5 separate regions of the Homo sapiens genome follow, and all the other regions are linked to region 3. The links come from fine-mapping of genetic effects on gene expression. A gene starts in region 3. Each other region holds a variant in brackets. All regions are shown on one strand. Distances are from middle to middle.

The links.
Region 1: its variant is fine-mapped to the expression of LINC00842 in sun-exposed skin (GTEx, PIP above 0.99).
Region 2: its variant is fine-mapped to the expression of LINC00842 in sun-exposed skin (GTEx, PIP 0.93).
Region 4: its variant is fine-mapped to the expression of LINC00842 in unexposed skin (GTEx, PIP 0.97).
Region 5: its variant is fine-mapped to the expression of LINC00842 in lung (GTEx, PIP 0.98).

The regions. Positions count from the first base shown.
Region 1 is chr10:46,423,570-46,428,672 of GRCh38, forward strand. The region is part of intron 1 of LINC00842 (long intergenic non-protein coding RNA 842); the gene reads left to right. Among named protein-coding and RNA genes, the nearest start is that of LINC00842, 28 kb to the left of the region's middle. RefSeq lists enhancers at 835-1,335, 1,336-1,836. The variant C/G (reference allele first, on the strand shown) is at 2,629.
Region 2 is chr10:46,473,102-46,478,204 of GRCh38, forward strand. No RefSeq gene overlaps it. Among named protein-coding and RNA genes, the nearest start is that of NPY4R, 9.7 kb to the left of the region's middle. The variant C/T (reference allele first, on the strand shown) is at 2,159.
Region 3 is chr10:46,395,972-46,401,074 of GRCh38, forward strand. LINC00842 (long intergenic non-protein coding RNA 842) reads left to right here and starts at 2,391. Exons shown (of 4, transcript NR_033957.2): 1 at 2,391-2,822. RefSeq lists an enhancer at 651-1,266.
Region 4 is chr10:46,365,438-46,370,540 of GRCh38, forward strand. It overlaps the pseudogene FAM25BP. Among named protein-coding and RNA genes, the nearest start is that of ANXA8L1, 7.8 kb to the right of the region's middle. The variant G/A (reference allele first, on the strand shown) is at 2,725.
Region 5 is chr10:46,793,785-46,798,887 of GRCh38, forward strand. It overlaps the pseudogene BMS1P1. Among named protein-coding and RNA genes, the nearest start is that of FAM245B, 56 kb to the left of the region's middle. The variant C/T (reference allele first, on the strand shown) is at 2,652.

The DNA.
Region 1 (5,103 bases), 28 kb after region 3:
CCTTGGCTGGGAGCCATATTAGTGGTCCTTCCCTGGCCTACAGAGAGGCTGCACCATTCTCGAGTCCTAAGCATGGCATGGCCACAGTACTTGCATTCACCTTTATCTCTGATCATGAAGTTGAGCAAGCAGCTGACTCAAGGGCCAATGATCCTGCCAAGGTCTTCCTACAGGTGTTCCCAGCAGGCCTGCTAGCCAGGGGTGTGGCGCCACAGGTGCTTATCATGGGCCCACTGCAGGATGGCTGGTCCCCAAGCAGCCCCACCCAGAGAAGCTTCCACCATGATCCTGAGGCAATGCCTAAGGCCTCTGGAGAATGAGGTGACTATCACTGTTGGGGGGGCATGATCAACACAGGGTGCAAGTCAGTTTCTTGGGTGCTTACAATGTTCAATTATTGAATCTGAGTGCTGGTGACATGGTTCCCTTGGCAAAGATTAATCGAACCATATAATTATAATTTGTGTATTTTTGTATATGTCTGTTCACTTCAGTAAAAATTTACATGAAATGTACTATTAAAAAAAAAGCTACTCTTGCCCCAGCTTCTTAGCATATGCATAAAGCGATGCTCTGAGAGCATCTTACTGATCATGAGAGTTCCCCCAAGGTGTTTATAATTGGTTCTCAGAGAAATGCTGGCTCCCTCCTTCTGTCCCCTTAGCTGAAGCAGGCTGTGCATGATACAGCCAGAGGAGGGAGGCCATCAGTGTTCTGCCAGAGTTATTTGAATTTAAGCCCCTGCACTCTAGAATTCTTGAGGCTACCCAAAGCTTCATGGAGCTCATGATGAGATTCAAGGTGCAGATTCCTATTTTGGCATCTAAATCAAGTGAGGACACATTTATGCAAGGACCTTAGGCATCCATATCAGTCACAATAAACAGTTTTTGAAATAATTTTAATTATTTTCAAATAATGCATAATAACCTCAAAACCTAGTGGCTTAAAACAATAATTTGTCACCATCTTTCACAGTTGAAGGAGTTGGCTTGGCTAAGCCAGGCAGGTGTTGTGTGGGGTCTCTCCCTGGGTTAGTCAGATGGCGTCTGAGTCATCCAAAGGCCCGACAGGGCTGGACATCCCAAGTGGCTTCCTCACATAGCTGGCAGCTGGGAACCGAGTGAGGGCTGTGGTCTGCAGGCCTAGGCACAGCTCCTCCATGTGGCTTGGGCCTTCTCACAGCATGGCATCTGGATCAGAAAGGCAAGAAGTGGAAGCTGACAGCCTCTTAGCCCTGAGCTTAGAAGCGGGCACAGCACCATGTGCCTCACTCTATGGGTCAGAGAAGTCATAGAGCTCACCTAGATTCCAGGGGATGGGACAGAGACCCCACCTCTCAAGGTGAGCTCTCTAACTGGGAAATCCGTGACCATGACTTTGAAGTGAGGTTGGATCCAGGAGTCCAAGCAAGGTCCTGAACTTTCCCTCCCCGTCTCTGGCCTCTGCAGGGCTCTGTTGGGCTCCAGCTTCAGACACAGTCTCCCCAGGAGACAGCTATGGTGCTCAGCAGGTCCAAGCTCAGACTCCTTAGAGCACATGCCGAAGGAGAGACAACTGCTCTCCCAGCACTCAGTTTCCTAACAATGGACCCTAGTTGGCCCTGCTGTCCACGTGCTGATCCCAACCTAATAAGCACGTCCAATGTGTGACACACTCTGGCCAATGTGGGTCCTCTGACTGCCCTTGTGGTGGGCAGTGGGGGGCTCTCTTTATTATTACCCCCACCACAATCACATAGAAAGTTTGTAAAGAGGATTCCTTTTCTCAAAGCAGGGAACCACAGAGCTCATACTGTACCCCAAGTCCCCTGCAACGTTACCTACAGGTCATGCAACCAGCATTAAGTTACAAAGAGAAAGGTGGGTACATCTGGAACTCCCTAGGCCTCCTTTTCCAGTCCCTACCTCGGGATGTCCAGCTGTCACTCCACCCCCACGTTCTCCCCCTACCCTCTGGGCCTCCAAGGCCACCTACCTCCCAGCCTTTCCTGCCTCCCTCTCCAGAAGGCCAACTGCTTCCACTGGCCACTTCAGATGGGCTCATCCCCCGGCCCTCCCCCAGCCCTCACCCTTCTCTTGAGTTCTGACAGGATAACATCGTTGATATGATTTGGCTTTGTCCCCACCCAAAACCTCATCTTGAATTACGATCCCCATAATCCCTACGTGTTAAAGTTAGGACTAGATAGATGAAGGTAATTGGATAATGGGGGCGGTTTCCCCCATGCTGTTCTCATGATAGTGAGTGAGTCTCGTGAGATCTGATGGCTTTATAAGTGCCCAGCATTTCTCCTGCTAACACTCATTCTCTCTCCTGCTGCCCTGTGAAGAACTGTGAGTCTATTAAACCTCTTTTCTTTAGAAATTACCCAGTCTTGGGTGTTTCTTCATAGCAGCATGAAAAAGGACTAATACAACTGGCTTCTAGGGTTAGCCGGGGAGTACCTCCGGCATAGACTGGGGGCCACATGGACTCAACATCAGACCACAGGCCTGTTAGAGGAGGAGGCGAAGCCGTCGGTGGAAGGCACACGAGGGATCTGAGTCCTTTTCCTCCCTGCCTGTCTGTGGCCCAGGGAGCCAGTGGTGGAGATGACACTTTTTTTTTTTGAGACAGAACCTCACT[C/G]TATCTTCCAGGCTGGAGTGCAGTGGCTCGATCTCGGCTGACTGCAACCTCCACCTCCCAGGTTTAAATGATTTTCCTGCCTCAGCCTCCCACATAGCTGGGATTACAGGCGTGCACCACCTCATCTGGCTAATTTTTGTATTTTTAGTGGAGACGGGGTTTTGCCATGTTGCCCAGGCTTGTCTCAAACTCCTGATTTCAAGTGCTCTGCCGGCCTCGGCTTCCCAAAGTGTTGGGATTACAGGCATGAACCACCACGCCGAGCTAGAGATGCCACTTCTAAGGTGTCCTTAGGTTTCAGAGGCCATGCAGGTGAATGGAGGGACAGTCATGGTGTTCTGTCTTTTGTTATGGAATAGTTATTATTAAAATCCTGGAGTGGGTTGAATTGTGGCCCCCACAAAAGGTTGGTCTGGGTCCAAATTCCTGGATCCTGTGACTATAACCTTATTTGGATAAAACAGCTTTGTAGATGTAATTAAATTAAGGATCTTCAGGTAAGTTCATCCTGACTTTGCCATTTTTAATTAAGTTGTTTGTCTTCTTATTATTGAATTGCAGGAGTAATTTTTATATTTTTGATACCAGTACTTTGTTAGATATAAGTTTGAGTACTCAGTCCTTGTAAGAGACAGAAAAGGAGAGACACACACAGAGGAGAAGGCTATGGGAGGCTGGAGGCAGAGATCAGAGCCACGAGCCAAGCTTGGAGCTACTGGAAGCAGGAAAGCAAAGAAGAACCTTGCCTGGAGCCTAAGTAGGGAGCACAGCCCTGTGACACTGTGATTTCGGACTTCTGACTTCCAGAACCGTGAGATAATAAATTTCTGTTCTTTTAAACCATGAAGTTTGTGGCAATTTGTTACGGCAGCCCTAAGAAAATAATACAAATCTTCTTTCACTGTCAAAAGTGCCTGGGTTGGAATCTATTGTAAGGACTCCCAGAGAGCTCTCGGGAAAGGAAACAAGAAGCCGGTCCCCTAGGCCTGGGCCTGACTGAGGCCGGGACCAGAGGCTCAGGTGGGGCCCTGGAGGCCAGCAGGAGGGCCCAGCCCAGTCACCAGTACAGGAGATTGACAGGAATGAAAGAAAATGTGTTGAGGGGTGTGCCTTAGGTCACGGGTCCCCAGCAGCCAGCAGCATCCGGAGGCTAGCTGGGGTCCTGGGTCCTGGCCATCTTTAGTCCTCAGAGACACAACTGACGTGCGTGTTGGTCCATCCTCAGGCTCACAGCCCTGAAATCTCTCTCCTCTGAGACAGAAAAGGAAGTTCATGTCAGAATCGGAGCACAGAGAGATCATGAATAAGCTGATGTCAGTGGCCCACTCACTGCCAACCTTGCTCAGCTCTGAGCATGATTATACCCAATCAAAGCATGGAAAATCAATGAATCTGCAGCCCAGGATACTGGGTACTACATCCACAGCCCAAAGAGCCTCTCCGGGGAAGGTTGCTAAGATACTAAGGGAAGGATACTTTGGAAAGATGGAGAAGTAAAAATATTTCCTACACCCTTTGTTTTGGAGAGACTATACCTGTATCTGGGATGCACAGGTGAGTTCAAACACCAAGGCGTTTGTGGATGGTGCCCAGGCTATACTCGAAGCAGAGCCGTCTCCTTCCCTGAGTGCCCTGCTCCTGAATGACCAACTGCAGGAGGTGGTGTCAGGCCCTGGGCTGTGCGAGGAAGGGAAGGCAAGACGCAGTGAGCCAGGGAAGGACACAGGACAGGGCTCATTGAAGCCCTACCCTACAGTGATACAAAACTGCTGCACAAGCTGGTCCCCAGAGAGCAACAGAGGAAGACTTAGGAGGCAGAGAGACTGGGAACACCAGTGGGGATGGGAGGGAAGTCTCCAGCCTGAAAAAGAAAATGGCCAATGGAAGAAACTAGGAAATAAAACATGGTTGCGAGTAGGGTATTCCCTACTTCTTCGTATGAGTCTGGGTTCTAGGAGGTGAATATGCATACAGTCACATGCTGTGTGACACTTCAGTCAACTACAGACGGTGATCCCATTAAATTATAATGGAGCTGAAAGAATCTTATCGCCTGGCAACAACCTAGTGCAATGTATTATTTAGGTGTTTGTGGTGATGCTGGTGTAAACAAACCTGCACTGCCAGTTGTATAAAATCTAGCACATAGAATTATGTACAGTGCATAGTACTTGACAATGATAACAAATGACTGTTAGCAGTTTATGTATTTACTATACTATACTTTCATGATTATTTTACAATGCACTCCTTCTACTTATTAAAAAGAAAAAGTTAATGTAACACATCCTCAGGCAGGTTCTTCAGGAGGGATTCCAGAACAAGGCACTCTCATCACAGGAGATGACAGCTCCATGTGCATGACGGCCCCAGAAGACCATCTGGTAGGACAAGATGTGGAGGTGGAACGCAGTGATATTGATAATCCTGACCCTGGGTAGGTGTGGGCTAATGTGTGTGTCTTCATTTTAATTT
Region 2 (5,103 bases), 77 kb after region 3:
ATGCAAGTGAATCCAACCCTGAAGAAGCATCAGCCTCAACCCAGGTGAGGGACATACTACAGAATAACTGGCCTGTCATCTGGAAACATAAGGCCATGGAAGTCAAGGAAAGAAGGGAGAACCATTCCAGATTGAAGGAGACCAGAGACAGGAGAATGAAACCTGTGTATCTTGGGACAGCTGATGAAACTTTAGTGGAGCCTGCAGATGAGGCGGTAGCAAGGTGTTCATGCAAATTGCCGGGATCATGCTTTCAAATGGCATAGAAAAATTAATGTTCTTTATCCTCACTTTCAACTTTTCTATAAGTTTAAGATGATTTAAATTATATTTTTAAAGGTGTCAAAAATTTTCTTCATCTTTATAGAATGAAACAGAAATAAAAATTGAAAGTGGTAACCTCTGGAAATAGAACTGGGGGAAAGAAGGAAAGAATATCAACGGGAGTTATCTGACCCATAGGATTTTAGGTCATTTTTTGCTTTGTTTCCTTTTCTAAATTTCTCTCTATTAAAAAAGAATGAATGATTACAACTTTATAAAGGAAAGAATCCATAAAATATATGTAATTAAATCCCATGGTACAAAGGGCAAAGAAGCTTGGCAACAACGCTTCCAGCCTCAGTTTTGTCATATGTAAAATGGAGCAAAGATGGGTTCAGGCTCATTACAAACTGGTGAGGGTTCAAATAATTAAGGGATAGGGATAGAATATCAAAGTATTTTCAAAGCCACATAGAAGGGAGGTGTGAGGGAGGGTTCCTAGGACTTCAAAGTCGGAAGCCGATAAGGGCCTGGCCTTCCCAGAAGCCTTCTAAGTAGAGATTCTGGCCAGCAGGGCTGCTGAAGTGGGCACACCTGCTGTAGGAGGCGTCTCCTTGGGCCCTGAGGGATCACCTGTTCTTTGTTTGCCTTTGCTTCTCTGCTGAGGCCATAAAGAGGCTGGGCTGTAAAATAACCTACTCTGGCCCCAGGAAAGAGATAAGAGATGTCAACTGGGCAGCCAACACCTTCCCTGCCTCCCACCCCAAACAGCTGGCCCTGCCCTCCCCACCCCCACCTCTTCTTCTCTCCAGAGTAAAGCTGGACTTCCCTACTGCCTCCTGCCTGTCCCTTCTCACCAATGCTGCCACCCTTTTTCTCCACTCTATTTCAAGGAAGTAGCCATCTGCCACTAAAACTTTATCCCATGGTCCAATCCATGAGCTTGAATCCAACCAGCCCAGAGCAGCATTTTCCCCCTTGATAGAGAATAAGAGAAAGACAAAGACAAAGGCACATTATTTCCCTAAAGTCCTATATTCCCTGTCTTCTGTGAACCAGTGAAATTATCAACCCACAGTGGGTCAGCTGCCCTTCTGTGGAGCACATCAGAGGAAAAATACCAACGCAGCCCTGGCTGCACACTTTGTGTCGACTCTCCCAATCCTTCTCCCTGCCTTCTGGAACTACAGAGATTCATTCAGTCTACTGTCATTCAACTAATATTTTAAAGCAGTTCAGTAGACTGAATGTTACATGGACAATAGACTCAGTGTTACAGAGACACTGGATGTACAGTTTCGCTTCCAAAGACATGTTATAAAAAAGGGCACAAATGGGATAATAAGTAAAATAGGCACCAGATTACCATATGCTTTGAACAGAGAATTTACCCTATTCTATTCCCCATCTCAAATTGTGCTTAGCTATGTTGTCCTACCAAAATTCCCTGATATGGTGATATATTAGTTAGCTAAAGCTGAGTAAAAAAGAGCCACAAAATCTTAGTGACATACAATTGACATGACTGCAGGTCAGCTGGGGCTAGCTGACCTAGGCGAGCTCAATGGGGCAGCTCTGTTTCAAGCTATGAGTCCAACTGGACTTGGCTCCTCACTGAGATTTAAACTTCTCCACTGATATTCCATCTGGGGCTCAGGCTGAAGGAGTTCAAAGAAGTGTTATGCATGGAGATGGCAGCAGTTCAAGAGGACAAGCCCAGCTATGCAAGGTAATTTCCATTCCTCCGTGAGTCACATCTGCTAACATCCATTGACCAAAGCAAGCTACATGGCTGAGCACAGTCGAGAGGCAAAGAACTGTCCCCCACCTACCCTGAGGCCAAAGCAAGTCAGAGCCATGCCCAACATTAATAGAACCAGTAACTACACTCTTC[C/T]AGTGAAATGGAGAGGTGGAAGAGTGAATATGTTTGAACAGTAGTCTCATCTATCATAGTCAATGATACAATTTCAGAAATATTAAGGAAACCAGTATTTGTATCTATCTCATTGAATATAATAATGAAAAATTTCTCATCTTACATTACCAAGTCCAACTCACTTTTTTCCACAGATAATTTTAAATCTTCCCCCAAAAGAAGCCCCATTCCATTTTCTCATGGAAATAATAAACTCAAAATTTCCCATCCCCTAGAGCAGTTTCACTCTGAAACAGATACAGTTTCCCTACACTTCCAGACTGGGCTATAGAAAGTTCTACAAGGACACACAAACATAGACAAAAAAGAATATTGCAATATTAGTCGTGTGTGTGTGTGTGTGTGTGTGTGTGTACATACATCACATGAGAAAATTCCCAGATCCAAATGAGGTATAATAGCAGCTTATAATTAGAGTAACTATTCCATTATACAAAAAAATTATCTCCCAAAAGGTACTGTTAAATCAAGTTTAGCCGGCCGGGTGCGGTGGCTCACACCTCTAATCCCAGCACTTTGGGAGGCTAAGGCAGGTGGATTACCTGAGGCCAGGAGTTTGAAACCAGCTTGGCCAACATGGTGAAACCCCATCTCTACTAAAAATACAAAAAATAGCCAGGAATGGTGGCACACACCTGTAGTCCCACCTACTTGGGAGGCTGAGGCAGGAGAATCGCTTAAACCCAGGAGATGGAGGTTGTGATGAGCCGAGATCACGCCACTGCACTCCAGCCTGAGTGACAGAGTGAGACTCCGTCTTAAAAATATAATAAAAAATAAATCAATTTAGCCTAAATCTGCCTCCTTACATATTTTAAGTTCAGCCTAAAGGTTTTTCTGTACATCATGAACTATAACAAGTGGAGGTGTAAACAGACTGTAGTCTACACTTGTGCTAATCAATGAGTTTTGGCCAATCAAATGTAGCCAACTGTTTGAACCCTGTTCAAATAAGGTGAACACCAAGCTGTAACCAATCAGCTATTTCTGTACCTCACCTCCGTTTTCTGTACCTCACTTTCCTTTCTCTGTCCATAAATCTTCCTCCATCACGTGGCTGTGCTGGAGTCTCTGAGCCTACTCTGGCTCAGAAGGCTGCCCAATTCGCGAATCATTCATTGCCTGCTCACTTAAGCTCCTTTAAATTTAATTCAGCTGAAGTTTTTCTTTTATCAGATGGTGTCAGAGCAGATCTGAAGTAGAGCTTCTAACGACTCCCAGGAGTGCTGAGTGACCGAAGCCAGGTACCTGCAGGACCTATTTGTGTTCGTTGATCTCTCAGAGCAGTTGGAAGTCATGGTAAGTTTTCTCTCCAATGTCAGAGCTCCACTGATTTGTGTTTTGAGCTCTCCGAGTTTCTTTGAGCAAATTTCTGTTCCAAACTGGGTTTGGAAGTCATGACAGAAACTGGGCTGGTTCAAGGAATGGATTTGATCTGGTAATTAACTGGCTTGGATACAGTTAGAGGCCTCTTACATCTGACTGGGTCAGAAAGAAATGTAGTAAATGGTAATATTGCAGGGGTGTAAAATTAGGCTATTGAAAATTCACAGGGATTTTTGTGTTTTACCCCTTTGTTTCTTTTTTTTTTTTTTTTTTTTTTTTTGAGACAGTCTCACCTTGTTGCCCAGGCTGGAGTGCAGTGGCACAATCTCAGCTCACTGCACTCTCTGCCTCCCAGATTCAAGTGATTCTCCTGCCTCAGCCTCCTGAGGAGCTGGGATTACAGGCGTCTACCACCACGCCCTGCTAATTTTTTGTATTTTTAGTAGAGATGGGGTTTCACCATGTTGGCCAGGCTGGTCTCGAACTCCTGACCTCAGGTGATCCACCCGCCTCGGCCTCCCAAAGAGCTGGGATAACAAGTGTGAGCCACTGCACCCGGCCTTGTTTCATTTTTCTTATGCACTTTGGTAGGAGAAAAATCATTGGCTAGGTTGATCAAAGGAACCTGAGAGCAAAGCCAAAATCTGAGGTAAAAATTGAATCCTTAATTTCTTTTTTTTCTTTAATTTGAGACGGAGTCTCGCTCTGTCGCCCAGGCTGAAGTGCAGTGGCGTGATCTCCGCTCACTGCAAGCTCCGCCTCCCGGGTTCACGCCATTCTCCTGCCTCAGCCTCCCAAGTAGCTGGGACTACAAGCACCCGCCACCACGCCCGGCTAATTTTTTTTGTATTTTTAGTAGAGACGGGGTTTCACCATGTTAGCCAGGATGGTCTCGATCTCCTGACCTCGTGATCCGCCCAACTCGCCTCCCAAAGTGCTGGGATTACAAGCATGAGCCACCGCGCCCGGCCTGGATCCTTAATTTCTGAAGAACTGAGTTCCTTCTGGCTAATACCTGCATAAGTGGTAGGCCCCGGAAGCAGCAGTCTTATAGAAATGGTGAAATCTTACTAAAGATAACTTAGAGTGGAATGTTCCAAATGAACAAAACTGCACTGAAGTGCATTTGAAAATGAGGGCTCCCAAGTTAGTCTCATCTAGGGATGTCTATTGATATGCAGAAGCTTCTAAAAAGATTTCAGTATTTTTATTTAAAGACTTTACAAAAGGCAAATCGAAAGCTTATGCGACTCATTGACTTAAAAAATTAAATCTGCTAGCCTTTTAGCTTAGTTACGATCCCGATCCAAAGGAAATAGACCGCAGCACCAATGGGCTGACTTTGGGTGAGTAGTGGGTTCATTTTACCTGGTAAAGGATGGGATTGGGTTGGAGGCCTTCCCCCTCAGTAAAGTCCCTCTTTGTTAAACGTGGATTTGGCACCATGGGGTTAACCACTATTCTCTTTGGAGTGATCTGCCTTGCACTCTTTGCTAACACCAGTGGGTGATAGGATTAGGCGTGTACCAGGCCATAGAACGTGGGGAACTTTTTCTCCCCAAAGGGGAAAATTTGGG
Region 3 (5,103 bases):
GAGAGAAGGCACAACATGGTCCAGCATACTGAGCCCCAAGTTTGTCCTGCAGCATGATTTGAGACACAGTGTTCGTGCCGCACAGAATTCTGTGAGCCGTCCAATAGCCTTTCATACATTTGTTTTCTGCTTAAACTACAGAGTAGATGCTCTTGTCAGCACCTAAGAACACCCTCTATTACACAGAACTACACCCTAATGACATTTTATCTGTTTACGTGTCCTCTCAGAAAAGCTGTGAGCCCCTTGAAGGCAGGAACTTTATTTGTTTTTAAACATTCAGGGCCTAGTAGATAGCAGGCTTTCAACAAATATTTTTGAATAACAACAAACAAGAGTATGGACTTTGGGAACAGGAGAGCCTAGTAGCCAGCGAGCCTGAGCCAATCCTTGATGGCCTCCAATTCTGAGAAGAATCTCTGGGCCCCCTTAGGCTCCCTGTGGAAGAAAGCTTACCCAGTCAATCCTAATAAAAATACTTCTGAGACAGATCTAACAGGACAAAGTGGAGTCTCTCCACTCTTTCAGTAGCTCCTTCACCCCAGGTGCTGTTTGGGGTTCTGACACTGCCATGGCATGGCCAGCAGGATGGCCCCTAGGGCTCCTGGGGCTGCTCTATAAGAGCTTCCCACCCCTGACCTGCAGTCCATGAGGGCAAAGCCAGATCCGGGCACATGCCCATCCGTGTTGTTCTCATGCTCTCAGGGGGTAGAGCTAGTGTGTTGGACTTGGCATGTTTAGGGTCACCTCCCTGAGGGTTGACAACCTGAGCAAAATCAGCATTCCCTTGGCAAGGAATAAAGGGGGAATGGATTTGTGGTCAGCAACCCACCGCCAAGCATTCTGCCTGCAACAGGGTGGGGCTGGCCAGGGGAGGCTCCTCAGGGAAGGTGAAAGCTGTGCAGAGTTTTGCAGGATGACTCAGTGCTTATCAGGTAGACAGATAAGGAAGAACATTCCAGGGAGAGGGAGGAATGCTAACAACAGCAGGGGATCTGGTCTGTACTAGACATGCCAAAGGAATGGTGTGTCCATATCAACAGAGGAGGGAGAGACAGAAGAGAAAGAGCTTGTCAGGGCCTGAGTCAGAGCGGGCTCATGCTGTGGGGCTAAGAAGCTCAAATGATTTCCAGAGACAGTGGGGAAGCTTTACAGGGACAGGCAGGGGAAGATCTTAACCCGGCTTTCGTAGGCCTCTGGCTTGAGTATAGAAGGTGAGTCTGGGACAGGGAGCCCAGCGCCGAAGTGTTGCAACACTATAGGGAGACATACAGACCAATTCCCTCCCACCTAACAGCTCTGTGCTTTGGGGTCCTGGGTTAGTTTCCTGGGAGAAGGCTGGCCTTGGCTACCTCTGTCCTTGACCAAGGACATCGTTTTAAATATTTGTGATGTGTCCTAGGCCACTGCATCTCTGTCCCTGTAGCGAAGAGAAGATACTGATTCCTAAGCTCCTACTCTGAGAACACAAATATCTGCAATACCTCGGTAAGCCCTAGGCCTGAGTGTGAGGTTGCAGGCACTTCCATGGCCCCATGCAGGTGTCTAAGTTCCCTCGTGGTATTTGGCCAAGGGGGGCCCTGTGTGATGCCCTAGCGCGGTGACTACCCGTGTTCCTGGCCCATGGGCATCTTCCACGGAATTCTGGGCTTAGCCTGGGGATTCATGCGGGCGCATCTCTGTGATCTGCTCTGGAGCAGGATGTACATCAGGTCTCTCAGACCTGAGTCCCTGGTGCCTGGCGCTCAGCCTTGACTGAAGTGCTCGGCCCACCCTGCTGGGCCAGCCAGCTCCTGCTCAGGGCCACAGCCCTGTAACCACGGCTTCCTCCCCAGGACTCAGGAATTCTCCCACTCCGGAATGCCTTGCTGCTGGGGTGACCAGGTCTTCACTTGTGAAACAGGAGTCAGCCACCTCAGCCCTGCGCCTGGCCTGGTGGAACATGGGTCACCGCCCCAACCTGGGGCAGCCGCCCCATCCCAACGCAGTTGCTGCCGCTCTCCATGCCTCCCTGTGCCCAGCTAACTGGGGGACTTGTCCCCTGGGAAAACCTGGGTACCCAGGCTGCCTTTGGTTTCAGCCCCTACTCCTCTTCCCGGGCTGCCTTTGCTCCCCGGAAGACCCCTTTCCCCGGGCTGTGTTCACATCGGCTGGGAAGGGTCCCTTGCAGACAGATCTTGGACGAGGTCGCGTCCCCCCTCGTGACCAGCAAACTCCTAAAAGCGGCCCTTGCCCCAGAGCCCCTGTAGCCTCCAACCGGCAGTCAGGAGGCAGCGCCGTCTCAGCGCCGCTTAGTGGCGCCAGGCGTGCCTGGAAATCCGCTTTCGCAGCGCCCCCTCGTAGCCGCCTCCGCCCGCAGAAAGGCGTTCCCTGGACAGAGAAGCGGGCGCGCGGGGGCGGGCGCGCGGGGCCTTGCCGGAGAACCTGACTCTCCGCAGCAGCAGTGGAAGCCGGAGTGACGCGTTGTGTTGAACACCAGTTTTCTGGAGCGCTGTGTGTTCTTAACAGCTGAGCAGTCTGTTTCTCCAATCAGGTTTCAAAGCCACTTCAACTGCACTGGCCCCTGTGGGTCACTGCTGCACCGCCCTGACCCATGTGGGTCCCTGAGGAGCGACCTGCCGGGGCCACCTGGCTGGACGAAAAAGACACACCTTGGACTTAAGCCGTGAGAAAAAAACTTCATCAGTAAGAAGAATGAATAAACAGACTAGGTTGAATCCATACAATGGAATGTTAGCAGACAATAAAAAGAAAATGAACTATTGATGTCCCCTACTGCACAGCAGAAGCTCTGAATCGTGTTCCTGAATGAAAGAAGTCAGGTATGAAAGAATAAACATTGTATGATTCCATTTATATGAAAATGAATCTGTGATTTAAAAATCAGACTAGTATTAGGTTGGTGCAAAAGTAATTGCGGTTTTTGCCTTTTTTTTTTTTTTTTAATAGTTGCTTTGGGGTTTATGGATGGAGTGGCATGGTAGAGGTTAGCTGAAGGGGGCATGAAATAACTTTTTGGGGGTGCTAGAGTGTTGTAAATCTTACAGTGGGGGAGGGACAGGAGTGCAGGCATTTGACAAAACACATTGAATTGTGAAATTTAAGATTTTTGAATTTCTTTGTATGTAAATTACCTGCCAATAAAAACATGACGAATAGAGCAGTTATGAGCATTTGTGTGTAGCTTTTTGTGCAAACTTAAATTATAATTTCTCTGATAAAAGCCCAGGAATGTGATTGTTGAGTAATATGGTAAGTGCATGTTTTTTGAGAAACTGTCAATCTATTTTTGGGAGTGGCTGTGTGTATCATGTTATATTCTCACAAGCAAGGGATGAGAAATTTGGTTTCTCTGCATCCTTGCTAGCATTTGGTTTTATCATTATATTTTTATTTCAACTGCTCAAATAAGTGTGCAGTGATTTCTCATGATCTCAATTTGCATTTCCCCAAAGGCTAATGATGTTAAATATATTTCCACATGCTGATTTGACTCGGCCATGAAATGTCTCTTCATGTCTATTGCCCAATTTCTTATCAGATTTTTTTTTTTACTGTTGAGTTTTGAGAGCTCTTTATGCATTGTAAATGTGAGTCCTTTGTCAGATATGCAGTTTGCAAATATTTTCTCCCCTCCATAGCTTGTCCTTTCATCATCTTAACAGAATATTTTGCAGAGGCAAAGTTTTTAATTTTGATGAAGTCCAATTTATCAATTCTTTCTTTAATGAATCGTACTTGGGTGCCATGCCTATGAACTCATCCTCAACTCCTAGGTCCAGATGATTTTCTCCTGTGTCTTCCTATCATAGCCAGAAACTAGAAAAGAACCAAAATGTCCCTCACTAAGTGAATGCTTAAACTAAGTGACACATCTATGCCAATATTCAGCAATAAAAAGAAACATTATTCATGCAAATAACTAAATGGATGGATCTCAAGAGCATTAGGCTAAGTGAAAAAAACCAATCTCAAAAAGTCACATACTGTACGATTTCACTTGTATAACATTCTTCCAGGGGCAAAATTATAAACAGTGAAAACAGATTAGTGGTTGGCAGGCGTTAGAGGCGGTGGTGGGGAAGTGTGACTACAAAGAGGTAGCAGGAGAGATCTTGGGATGATGGGATAGTTTTGTGTCTTGGTGGTTACAGGAATCTACACATGTGATACAATGTAATAGAAGAACACACATTGTGCTAATGTCAGTTTCTTTGTTTTGATATTGTTTTGTAGAATGTAAAACGTAAACAGTGGAGAAACTGGGTGAAGGATATTGGGACCCCTTCACAAATTCTTGTCAATCTATGATTATTTGAAAATTTAAAAGTCTAAACATACATAAAATAAAAACCTAAAAGGCAAAAAAGTAATGCACGCACTTGATAAAAATCAAGTAGTACAAAAGAGTAAATGGTGAAAATAAATCTCTGCACCACTCTAGAGACCCCAGCCAAAGTCCTCTCCAAACTCTCTCACAGTTATTAAGTTTCTTGTATATGCTTCTAGAAATTCATCTTGCATATGCTTCTAGAAAATCAAGTAGTACAAAAGAGTAAGTGGTGAAAATAAATCTCTGCACCACTCCAGAACCCCCAGCCAAAGTCCTCTCCAAACTCTCTCACGATTGTTAAGTTTCCTGTATATGCTTCTAGAAATTCTCTAGGAATACGCAAAAATATATGTACTTTCCCTACTTCTCTAGCTTTTGTCTAATGCTAGTCTTCTTTCTATTTTTAATTATATGTATTTAATATATCTTTAGGAAAAATTAATACTTTTTAACAGCAGTGTAAGATTTCATTGTGAATGTACCATAATTTATTTAACCAATCTCTACTCATTTAATCTGTTTTTGGTTGTTTAGGCTGGTTTCGGTAGCTTGTTATTGGAAGTTATTGCAATAAACATTCTTATATTACTTTGTATCATCATAGGATAGACTCCTAAAATATTGTGTTTAGATCAAAGGGCATGTGGAATTGTACTTAAGATAGATTTTGTCAAGAAGTCCCCATTCTCATCAGTACAGAAGGAAAATACCAATTTCCTAAACCTCTTACTAAGACAGTACATCTTCAAAATTTGATCCTCACTCATCTG
Region 4 (5,103 bases), 31 kb before region 3:
CTACTGCACTTCAGCCTGGGTAACAAGAGCAAAACTCCATCTCAAAATAATAATAATAATAATAATAATAATAATAATAATAATAATAATAATAATGCCGTGTTTCTATCAGACCCAGAAATCCCGCAGAGTGAGCTGGAATTCTCTGTTTATCTGTTTCCCCTTCATACCCACTGGCTCCTCTCTGCCCGCTCCTTGGACTGCATCAGCAGGGTGCCTCACTGTCTGGCCCTAGTGGAATTCACACAGTGGAGGACGTCATAGGAGGTGGGAGAGAGAGAGAGAGAGGAGAGGTGGTTATTCACTCAGATTCTTCCTTGCTGGTTTGGCAGTGGCCACATCTTTCTACTGATGGCTGCAGCTCCTGATGATCCTCCTCTACAGCCACAGCTCTCTTTGGGATCTGTGGACACCTTTCCTGTCCCTCTAGACCCAGGGAGATAACAGCTCCCACTCTTGCTGGTCCAGGACATTCCTCATCTCTTACTGGTTCCCTTAACTCGGTCCACACTTCTGTGAACAGCCCCTTTCCTCAAGTACCCATTCGAATATGTCCTCTGGCTTCCACCAGGAGCCTGACTGATACCCACAGGTGGGTGAATGCTGGCGTGCTGCTGGGCCCCTCTTCCTCTGGTGACTGGCCAGCCAAGTCTCCAGGAGTCTCGTTAGGGTGGGCAGGCGGTGGGCACAGCATAAACTGTGAGCTCAAATCCACAGAACAAAAGTGGGAGAAGACACTGGCAGGATGGACCGCCACAAAACTCTTGGCATTCGTGACGTCTGTCCTTTAAATCACGCAAGGCATCATCATGCTTCAGACATGAGACAGCCTAAGTATTTAAGTGTTTCAAATAAACAAATTGTTTTTCAGAATTGGTAATTGCTAAGTTGGCAAATTGCTATTGGAAACATTGGCTGTCCTCGACTCAATGATTCAGCCAGCTAGTCCCTTGCCAAACTAGTTTGTTGGGCAAATTCCACCTTGAGAATTTATCTGCTCCTGTCAAAGCCAGATTCTCCCTGCCTGAGGGGAGGCTGGACTTGACCTTCTGACTCAGGATATGCTGACTTGGGTCCCTAGGTCCAAGGGCGGCCCTCTTGGGCCCACTGTGGGCTGGACCTCTTCCATGATGGGGTGGTGGAGGGCAGGCCCCACCTGATTCACACTTGACCTCATCCAGGCAGGTGAAGTTCCCTGCAGGAGTCACCTGAGCCCAGCCCCTCAGACCAGGATCCATCATGTTTAGGAGGATTTGGGGCTATCTCATGTTCTTTGGCTAGAAAGGGGTCCCACTCTTAGGGGTCTGCCCTCTGTGGGGCACAGATGGCTTGCTGGGGCCCATGGACGGGGCTGGGTGAACGGGAATCTGGTCACAGCAGCAGCAGCTGGAAGGCCAAGAGGGAGGGCACCAGGGCCTGGGACCCATGTCTTGTCCTGAGCCTCCCCGGGCCTCTTGCCTTCTCCCCAGCAGGCATTTGGGATCTGTGTCTGGACCCAGCCTCACCCAGAAGGCCATGGTGTGTTGTCATTAGAATCACAGTGCTCACACCAAGGCAGTGCATTAAATTAGCAGGGCAGGGTCTCATGGGCAGGGGACCATGTGGAGGGGGTGGGGGGAAGGGCAGTTGTCCCCAGAGGCCGTGGTGGGCCTGGCTCTGGGCTGGGCAGTGGGCCAGGGTCCTGCTGTGTGGATGAGCTCTGACAACAGGCTGTCTGGGTCTGGTGAGCTCCTGAAAGCGCGGACTGGTGGAGAGTACCCTAGGGTGGGAGCTCATGAGGAGGGGGTCTGTGGGGTCTGGAAGCCATTCTAGAGCAGGCAGATGACATTTATCAGGGGAGCAGGCATAGAAAGGACCCTTGTGCGAGTGGGGGGGACACAGCCTCAGAAGAAACAGGGAAGGGGCTTTGACAGGTCCAGGGAGAATCCCTGAGGTTTCCTAGAACAATTCCCACCAGCCATGTCCCAGGTGTCGCCCCATCCCCCAGGCCTCTGCAGTGCCAGCCCAATGCCCTGGGCAAAGCATCCTGGACTCTGGCTGTTACAAAAGGAGGACAGGGTCATCTGGACCCGCCTGAGCTCCAGGCCCCCGACTTTCACAGCCCCTTCTGGGTCCAGAAGTTCATACGTATATAAATGAAAAATGTGCAAGAATCATATTATTGTATTCTTTTTCATAAAGAGGCCCCTCTAAATTGTTGAAGCCCCGATTCACCCCTGCCCAAAGGAGACAGCAATGGCATGTGTGGGGCCACAGTCTTGAGACCCAGAGGTCCTGCTGCCCACGATACCCACTGTCCACCCTAGGGTTACTGGCCGTAGCCCTGGAGCCCGCAAACACCATGCAGGAATGCAAGAGGGTCTCAGCTCCAGAGTCCCAGGCTGGGAGGGCCCACAGTCCAGTAAACTAATCAGGCCCTGACACATCCAGGAGAGCAGCTCCAGGAGCCTGCATTGGGGAGACAGCCTCGGACCCCTGCCACAGGCCTGCACCCCAGAAGTAGGAGCATGGGAAGACCTCTCCTTGGCTCCTGGCCAGCAGAAGTCACATTCCCCAGCCCTCTGGCTCCAAGGCAGCCTCACGTCCCAGTCACTCCTTGGCACACCCTACCGGTTGGTCAGAGCTCACTGCCAAAGGGCACCTCAATGATGAGTGGAGGGAACAGGTGTTTACCAGGAGCTTGCATGCTTTGTCTCAGGGATGATTAGGGACACAGCCAAGAAG[G/A]CACGCTATGCCCATTTTACAGATGAGGAAACGGAGGCTCAGGTTGGGCTGGTGACTAAGGGAAGCAGCATGTGGCAGGTGGCTTGAGGCATGTCTGTCCATCATGAGTAACTAGGGAGCAGCCCTGCCACTCCTCATGCGATGCACCAGGAGCCAGGGAAGCTGCTTTCTAGGGGATTCTAGCTAAGGCCAGAAGCATCTCCCTGAGTGGTGGTGGAGGCCTCTGTCTACTCCTCCAGGACTGCCAGGGGATAGGAGGGCACCGCTGACCTCACAGAGCCTCTTGGGTGAGTGAGCATCAGCTGAGTGACACCAGGTGACTACGCTTCTGCCCAGTGCTGTGCCCCCCTCTGACTCAGGCAAGGCACCACCCTGAACGGCCCACCCTGTCCCATGGAGGCCGCAAACTGCTCTGCAGAGCCAGGGTCTCCAGGAATGGGGAGGGCAGTCACCCTCATTCCACTTGTGTTCATGACCCAAAGGACTGCCCAGGTCTCCAGGCCCATAGAACCCCCAAACCTCTTACTAGGCCACACTGGGGACCTTGAGCAGCAGGCTTGGAATCCTAGGCCTTGTCTCCAGGTACATATCAGTACCCAGGCTTGGGAAGCTTTGGTCTCAGGGGGGCTGGCACTCAGGCCCTCTGCCTCAAGGAAGAAGCATGTCCAGATCTCTACTGTCCAGCCCTGCTCCCTGCCCCTATCCTTCACGGGGTCCCTAGGACAGGGTTACAGAAGCCTCATGCTGTCAGGGGATGCTGCCACCCTAGTTCCAGGGTGGCTCCGCCCAGCCCCTTCCTGCTGCCGCCCTCACTGACTCACCTGTCCAGCCTCCTACTGGGCTGGGGTGAGGGCTTATTGCCCCAGAGCCTAGACAGGCACCAGAGGCAGCTATAAAAGCATGTTGGGCCAGTCCTCAGCATCCTAGTTTGCCACTGTCTGCTGCCACACGATGCTGGGAGGCCTGGGGAAGCTGGCTGCCGAGGGCCTGGCCCACCGCACCGAGAAGGCCACCTAGGGAGCCAGTGAGGACCCGGGGCTCCTTTCTACCTGGGCTGGGGGGATCTGGGGCAGACTGAGTCTGTGGGAGGCGGATCTACGTAGGCAGGCGAGGACCTGCGGAGAGGCCTTGGCCCCTCAGGAACCCTGGTCTCCTGCTCTACCAAGTCAGCACGGAGTTGAGGGGTGCAGACCTGGGGAGGTCTCCTGGGGGCAGGGCATGAGTCCTGGTGCTGGGTGAACACTGGCAGCTTGGACCCTTCCCTCTGGAAATCTGGGGAGCCTTTCTTGTCAAAACAGCCTATTCTGAATAACCTATGCAGGAAAAGGAAGATGGATTTTTATTTTTACCATAACTTTAAAGCTTCAAAGATTTCTTAACAAGTCACCAAGTCTGTTCAAAGTCAAAAAGGGCATTTTCAATTTCATCCAAGTCCCCTAAAGCATGTTTATTTTTATTTGTATTTGTATTTGAAATGGAGTCTTGCTCTGGCACCCAGGCTGGAGTGTAGTGGTGCGATCTCGGCTCACTGTAACCTTTGCCTCCTGGGTTCAAAGTGATTCTCATGCCTCAGCCTCCTGAGTAGCTGGGATTACAGGCACCCACCACCACGCCCGACTAATTTTTGTATTTTTAGCAGAGACGGGGTTTCGCCATTTTGGCCAGGCTGGTCTCAAACTCCTGACCTCAAGTGATCCATTCCTCTTGGCCTCCCAAAGTGCTGGGATTACAGGCGTGAACCACTGCACCTGGTCCCGAAGTGTATGTTGTATTCAGAGGTCAGCAGGTATGTGTGGGGAGGCCCAGCCAGGCCCCACTCATGGGTCATCGTGTGAAAAAGTCTTGCCTGAGTTTGTGTCCTCTTTCTAAATGGCAGCAGATGCGTATTTTGTTTTTGACTCTGCAGCTGGTGTGGACCACCTGCTTTAACCTTTCACTAGCCTCTGAGTTTTTTATGATTCCTGTTGGGAGAAAAGCTCAGCGTTGGGAGAAAAGCTGAGGCAGGGCTTGCTAGACTTGCTGGCTCCTTGCTTCTAGCACTGCCATTCTCTCAAGTAGCCATATGTTTCTCATTCATTTGATACACTGTTGCCTTTCAACCTCCACATCCTCACCACCTGTTTCTTTGTTAGATCACCAATAAATAGCGTGGGCTCCCAGAACTCGGGGCCTTCGCAGCCTCCACACTCGCGATAGCGCCCTGCTCCCATTTTCTCTCTCGAACTGTCTCTTTCTCATTCCTTTGACTCCGCTGGACTTGCCGCCCCCGTGACCTGGTGTTGGGTCTCATCATCCCAACAGATTCCCATTCTAAAGATGAGGGAACCAAGAGGTGGAAGGTAGAGTTAGAATAAGAACCATTTCTTCTGACTCTGAAAT
Region 5 (5,103 bases), 400 kb after region 3:
TGTGGTGGTGGGTGCCTGTAGTCCCAGCTACTCAGGAGGCTGAGGCAGAAGAATGGCATGAATCCGGGGGGCGGAGCTTGCGCTGAGCCGAGATCAAGCCACTGCACTCCAGCCTGGGCAACAGAGCGAGACTCTGTCTCAAAAAAAAAAAAAAAAAAAAAATTGGTCTTATCTGCTTATATTTTCTTATAGACTACCATTCATCATAATCTTTCTGTTTTTTTACTTAATTCTAAACTGGTAGCTATTTCAAATATTTCTGAGCAATTGAGTTATACAAATTAACATACAAGTTAGAGGTTTCCATTGTATACTTCCCAGCAAAAAAACAGATTTTTTTTTTTTTTTTCTGTGAGGAGATTGAAAGAAGGGGTTGGTTTTCTGTACGTATTTAATATATTTCATTGATTATCACTTTCTTCCCATTCTTTGGATGTCAGAGACCTGTTATTTGGCTTAAAAATACATTACAGAAAACTTCATTTCTTTAAATTAGGATTTCTTAGGTAAGGGCCAGGTTAGACCCAGCCTTTTCTGAGTTACTTCTCATGCATTAGAATTCTTAAAATGGATGTTTATATCCTAGTGGCCTTGTCTTATGGTTGCCTTTTAGAGCAAGTCAGAGGGTGGTGGTTTCTCTGTCTGGGTGATGCCTGTGTAGTCATTTGATTTAGTCTGGAGTGGGACTTTTCTGTCGAGGGCCAGATAGTGAATATTTTCAGCTTTGTGGATCATATCTTCTGCAGCTACTTAGCTCTGCAGTTGTAGTGCACAGGCGGCCATAGACAATATGTAAATGAATTAATGTGGCTATGTTCCAATAAAACTTTAGTTACAAACACAGGTGATGGGCTGGATTTGGCCCGTGGGCCAGTTGCCAACCCCTAGTGTAGGTGGTCTGTTTTGGTAGTTTCTTCGAGAAATAATGTGTTGTGCTTGTAGGTACTGATGCTTATAGATGCCAGCTTTGGGTTTGAAATGGAAATGTTTGAGTTTCTAAACATCTGTCAAGCACATGGCTTTCCTAAAATTCTGGGAGTTCTCACCCACCTCGACTCCTTCAAGCATAACAAGCAACTGAAGAAGACAAAGAAGTGATTAAAACACAGGTTCTGGACAGAAGTTTACCAGGTAGGAAGAGAAATAATTGTTAGAAACTAACAGTATAATCTTTTAAAAACAGACTAAAGAGGCCAGGCACAGTGGCTCACGCCTGTAATCCCAGCACTTTGGGAGGCAGAGTCAGGTGGATCACTTGAGGCCAGGAGTTTTGAGCTCAGGGCAATATGGCCAAACCCTGTCTCTACTCAAAAGGCAAAAATTAGTCGGGTGTGGTGGCATGCATCTGTAATCCCAGCTATTAGGGAGGCTGAGACGTGAGAATTGCTCAAAGCTGGGAGGCAGAGGGTGGAGTGAGCTGAGAGTGCACCACTGCACTCCAGCCTGGGTGACAGAGTGAGACTCCATCTCAAACAAACAAACAAACAAAAAGACTGAAGAGACATTACTAAACGTCTCTCTAGGAATTGCCTCCTGAATTCCCTTTGTGTATGTGTTCCCAGTCTCTGGAAGGTTTCCCTCAAGAGAGTGGTTATTCTGGGCCTCTTGGTGTATCTCATTTGTCTCCGTACCTGCTGCACCAGGCAATGTCTGGGTGTTTTGGAGTCGGGACTTAATAGAGTACATCAGAAGTTTCTCCCAGTTACAGGACCAGGCACTGCCCCTTCCTTTCCATACTGCTGTGGTCCATCGGCCACAGAACCGTTTCTGTGCTCAGAGGCCTCACCTCCCTCTCCTCACCATACTTAGATGGATGCCCCGGCTTGGTTGCAGAGCAGTCTGCCTCTGTGTGGTTCTAATAAGTCCTGAAAGAATCCAGCAAGGCTCTGGAAGCCTCAGGACAGTGGCTTTGCTGGAAGTCTCCCTTCTTAGGATTGCTTCTTGTTTAGAGCTTTTATTTTGTTGCAGTATTGACGAGAATTTAATTGAAATTTAATTTTTAATTTTCCTTTAATGTTTAGGTTGCCAAACTGTTCTACCTTTCTGGAATGGTGCATGGAGAATATCAAAACCAAGAAATCCACAATCTGGGCCATTTTATTACAGTTATGAAGTTTAGGCCTCTCATGGCAAACTTTTCACCCTTATATCCTGGCAGACAGTTAAAAGGTGATTGTAAACTTTTTCTTCCTGGGCCATATATTTCAAAGCTAAAAAGGCTAGAAAAAGAACAGTGATAGGATTTATTTTGTGCCTATTTGAATAGTGGGGGTAGAAGTGTAGTTGATGGAAAATGTCTACTTATATCATTGCTCAAAGATGCTGTGCCTTTGGGAGTAAATTAATTATGAGATGTTTAGGAAAATGGGAGGACTTGGAAGCATTTAAGACTACAGGATGTGGCCCCATCCTACGTTCAGCCTCAGTTTTCAGTGATGCTGCCTTCATGCCCGGGTGCTGGAGTCCTTCGTGCATGCCTTCAGTTTCCTTCCTTTGTGCTCTTCTTTGTGCTGTGATTTTCTCAGCCTGGAATACCCTTTTTCCACCTGCCAGAATCCAAGCCACAGTACAAATCCCAGAGCACAGGCTCACCCTCTTCGAGAAATGGATTTTCTGAATGTGTTCTTCACTCTTCCCTGACCCCAGGTGGA[C/T]GCCATCTCCCATCTGGTGTCTTATGGAATGAATGTCACTTTCAGCCTAGAGACACAGTTGTGTGCCTGCCCCTTTTCCTCTTCTGGATGGTGAACGGTGCTTCCTTATTTCTGCATTTTCTAGTTCCTAAGTGATGTGCTTAATGGACAAGAGTGTGATGAGTCATTGACACATGAAAGGAGGTATAGGAACTTTGGCATTCATTTCTGCTGTATGATTGAGTTTATTTTTCTAGGATGGAAGATTTGACAAACCCGGAGGATATCCAAACAAACATCAAATGTGACCTGCAGGTGTCACTTTATGGTTATTTAAGAGGAGCACACTTGAAAAATAAAAGCCAAATTCACATGCCAGGTATTCTCTTGCTGTAGAACATACGAGAATTGCACATAGGATTCTTGGGATGGCTTCATTTCTCAGGAAAAGTGAAAAATGACCAAACAAGGGAAGATGGCCTTGCTGGAGGTTTTAAAAGTAAGCCAGCTATGTGTAGGCCTGCAAAGGTGTTACCGAATCCCTCTTCTCTGACCTCTTGTAGCTAGAGGGCCACTGTTCCAGTGTGGCACAATGCCCTTCTTTAGGGTCATGGGTTAAGCCCTTGGACTGTGGATCGTTTTTAACCCCCCAGTCAACAGTAGATACTTACTGACTTCTTGTCAGTTGAAGCTGGCTTTTTGGGTCCTGTCTTCCAGGGGTAGAACATTTTGCCATGAGTGACATCAGTTTCCTCCCAGACCCTTGTGTTCTTCCTGAATAACAAAAGAAGTGCTGTTTAAATAAGAAGGAGCAGCTGGTTTATGCGCCTGTTTCTGGAGTTGAGGGTGTGCTGTATGACAAAGACGCTGTCTGTGTTGACCTTGGTGGCAGCCACGGTTTTCAGGCATCAGTGAGGCAGGAGTCTTTGCTCTGAACTCTCATTATTCTTTCCTAATCTATTTCTTAATCAAAAAAAGTAATGTACTCAGCTTTTATTTATTGAAGATTTTTCTCTTGTACTTATAATAAAGGCCCAAATGCATATTGTCAATATGTAGAATAAAAAGAATACCATTTTTTCATTGTACCAAGCAGAAGAGTCCTGTCCTCCATGCCTCCTTGATCCGTGGCCCCAGCGCGGGCACTGCTGCCAGTGTGGCACCTGCACGGCTTATTTCCGTTTCTACAAAATCAGTGTGCTTTCCAGCTCTCGTTTGTCTTTTTCTTTTTCTCAATCACAGTGGTCTCCTCATTATTTTAAAGTGGATTTCCAATATTTATTTCTTAGTTCTGTAGTTGAATTTTATTGGGTTAAAAGCAGGGTTACTTAAAAATGTTAGAAAAGCTAGCACTGTTGTAGCACTGGAACTGAGGTTTTTCTAGCTAGGTGTTTAGGTTATCAGGTTATATACTCACTGAGCTTTGGACAAGTTTAATGGAGATGGGGATCCATTTCAAGCTTTGTTATAAGGATTTTCTTCTCTGGTGTTTGTGGCATTAAGAAAGGTTCTCAGGAAATGTGTCTAAGATAATTTTGAGAAACTGAGTGAAACCAGTGTCTCTCCAGGATCTTTGTGCTTTCCTCACGTGCCCTTTCTTGGTGGCCTTGATAGGACAAGGTGGGGCTCACCCATGAGCTGGTCCAGAGTCTCATCTCCACCTACTCCACCATTGATGCCAAGATGGCTTCAAGTCGAGTGATGCTGCTTTCCAATTCCAAACCACTTGGGTCAGAGGCTATAGATAATCAAGGGTAAGTCTGCTTTTTTTCTATTTTTAATAAAAAGATATATTACAGAAGATCGTATCACCCATAATTCTGCCATCATAACACATTTTGGTGGGATTCATTCTATGTCGTTTTGTTTTTCTTTGTGTGTGCATGTGTCTCTGAGGGCTCTTCACTTACCTGACATTACAAGGGAGTCTTATCTTGAAAAAAATACAGGATGCATTTTTCAACAGACTTCAAATATTCCTCAAATACCACGCCATCTTCCATAGGTTGCTTTTTTGGTTTTTCAGAGACCTGAGGCCACTTGGCTTTCTTTTGATGGCCGAAACACTAGAGCAGAGTCAGGGAGTTTGTGGCTGTCCAGAAGCCACATGCCTTGTCTCTGAAAGTTTTATTTAGATTATGTTGTATTATCTCCCATGGGTAGGTTTCCACTAATGTGTGGCTTATGTGAATTATTTTTCAGTCTGGGTTGGGAATTTGTATACCTTTATGCTTAGTGGATGTTTGCAAAACACTGATTTTGTTGTATTGATTTATGACTTCCAGTAAAATTTATCTGAAAATTTTGAGATAGTGTAGTATATAATTTGTTACAATGTGCATAAACTACCTACCACAGTGCCTGACATAATGAGTGTTATTAGCTGTTTTCATTTTTGCGTATCCTTCTAGACATCCTTGTCTACAAGAATACTCTCTTCTAATATAGCTACAGGTAAAATACGTAATTTTAT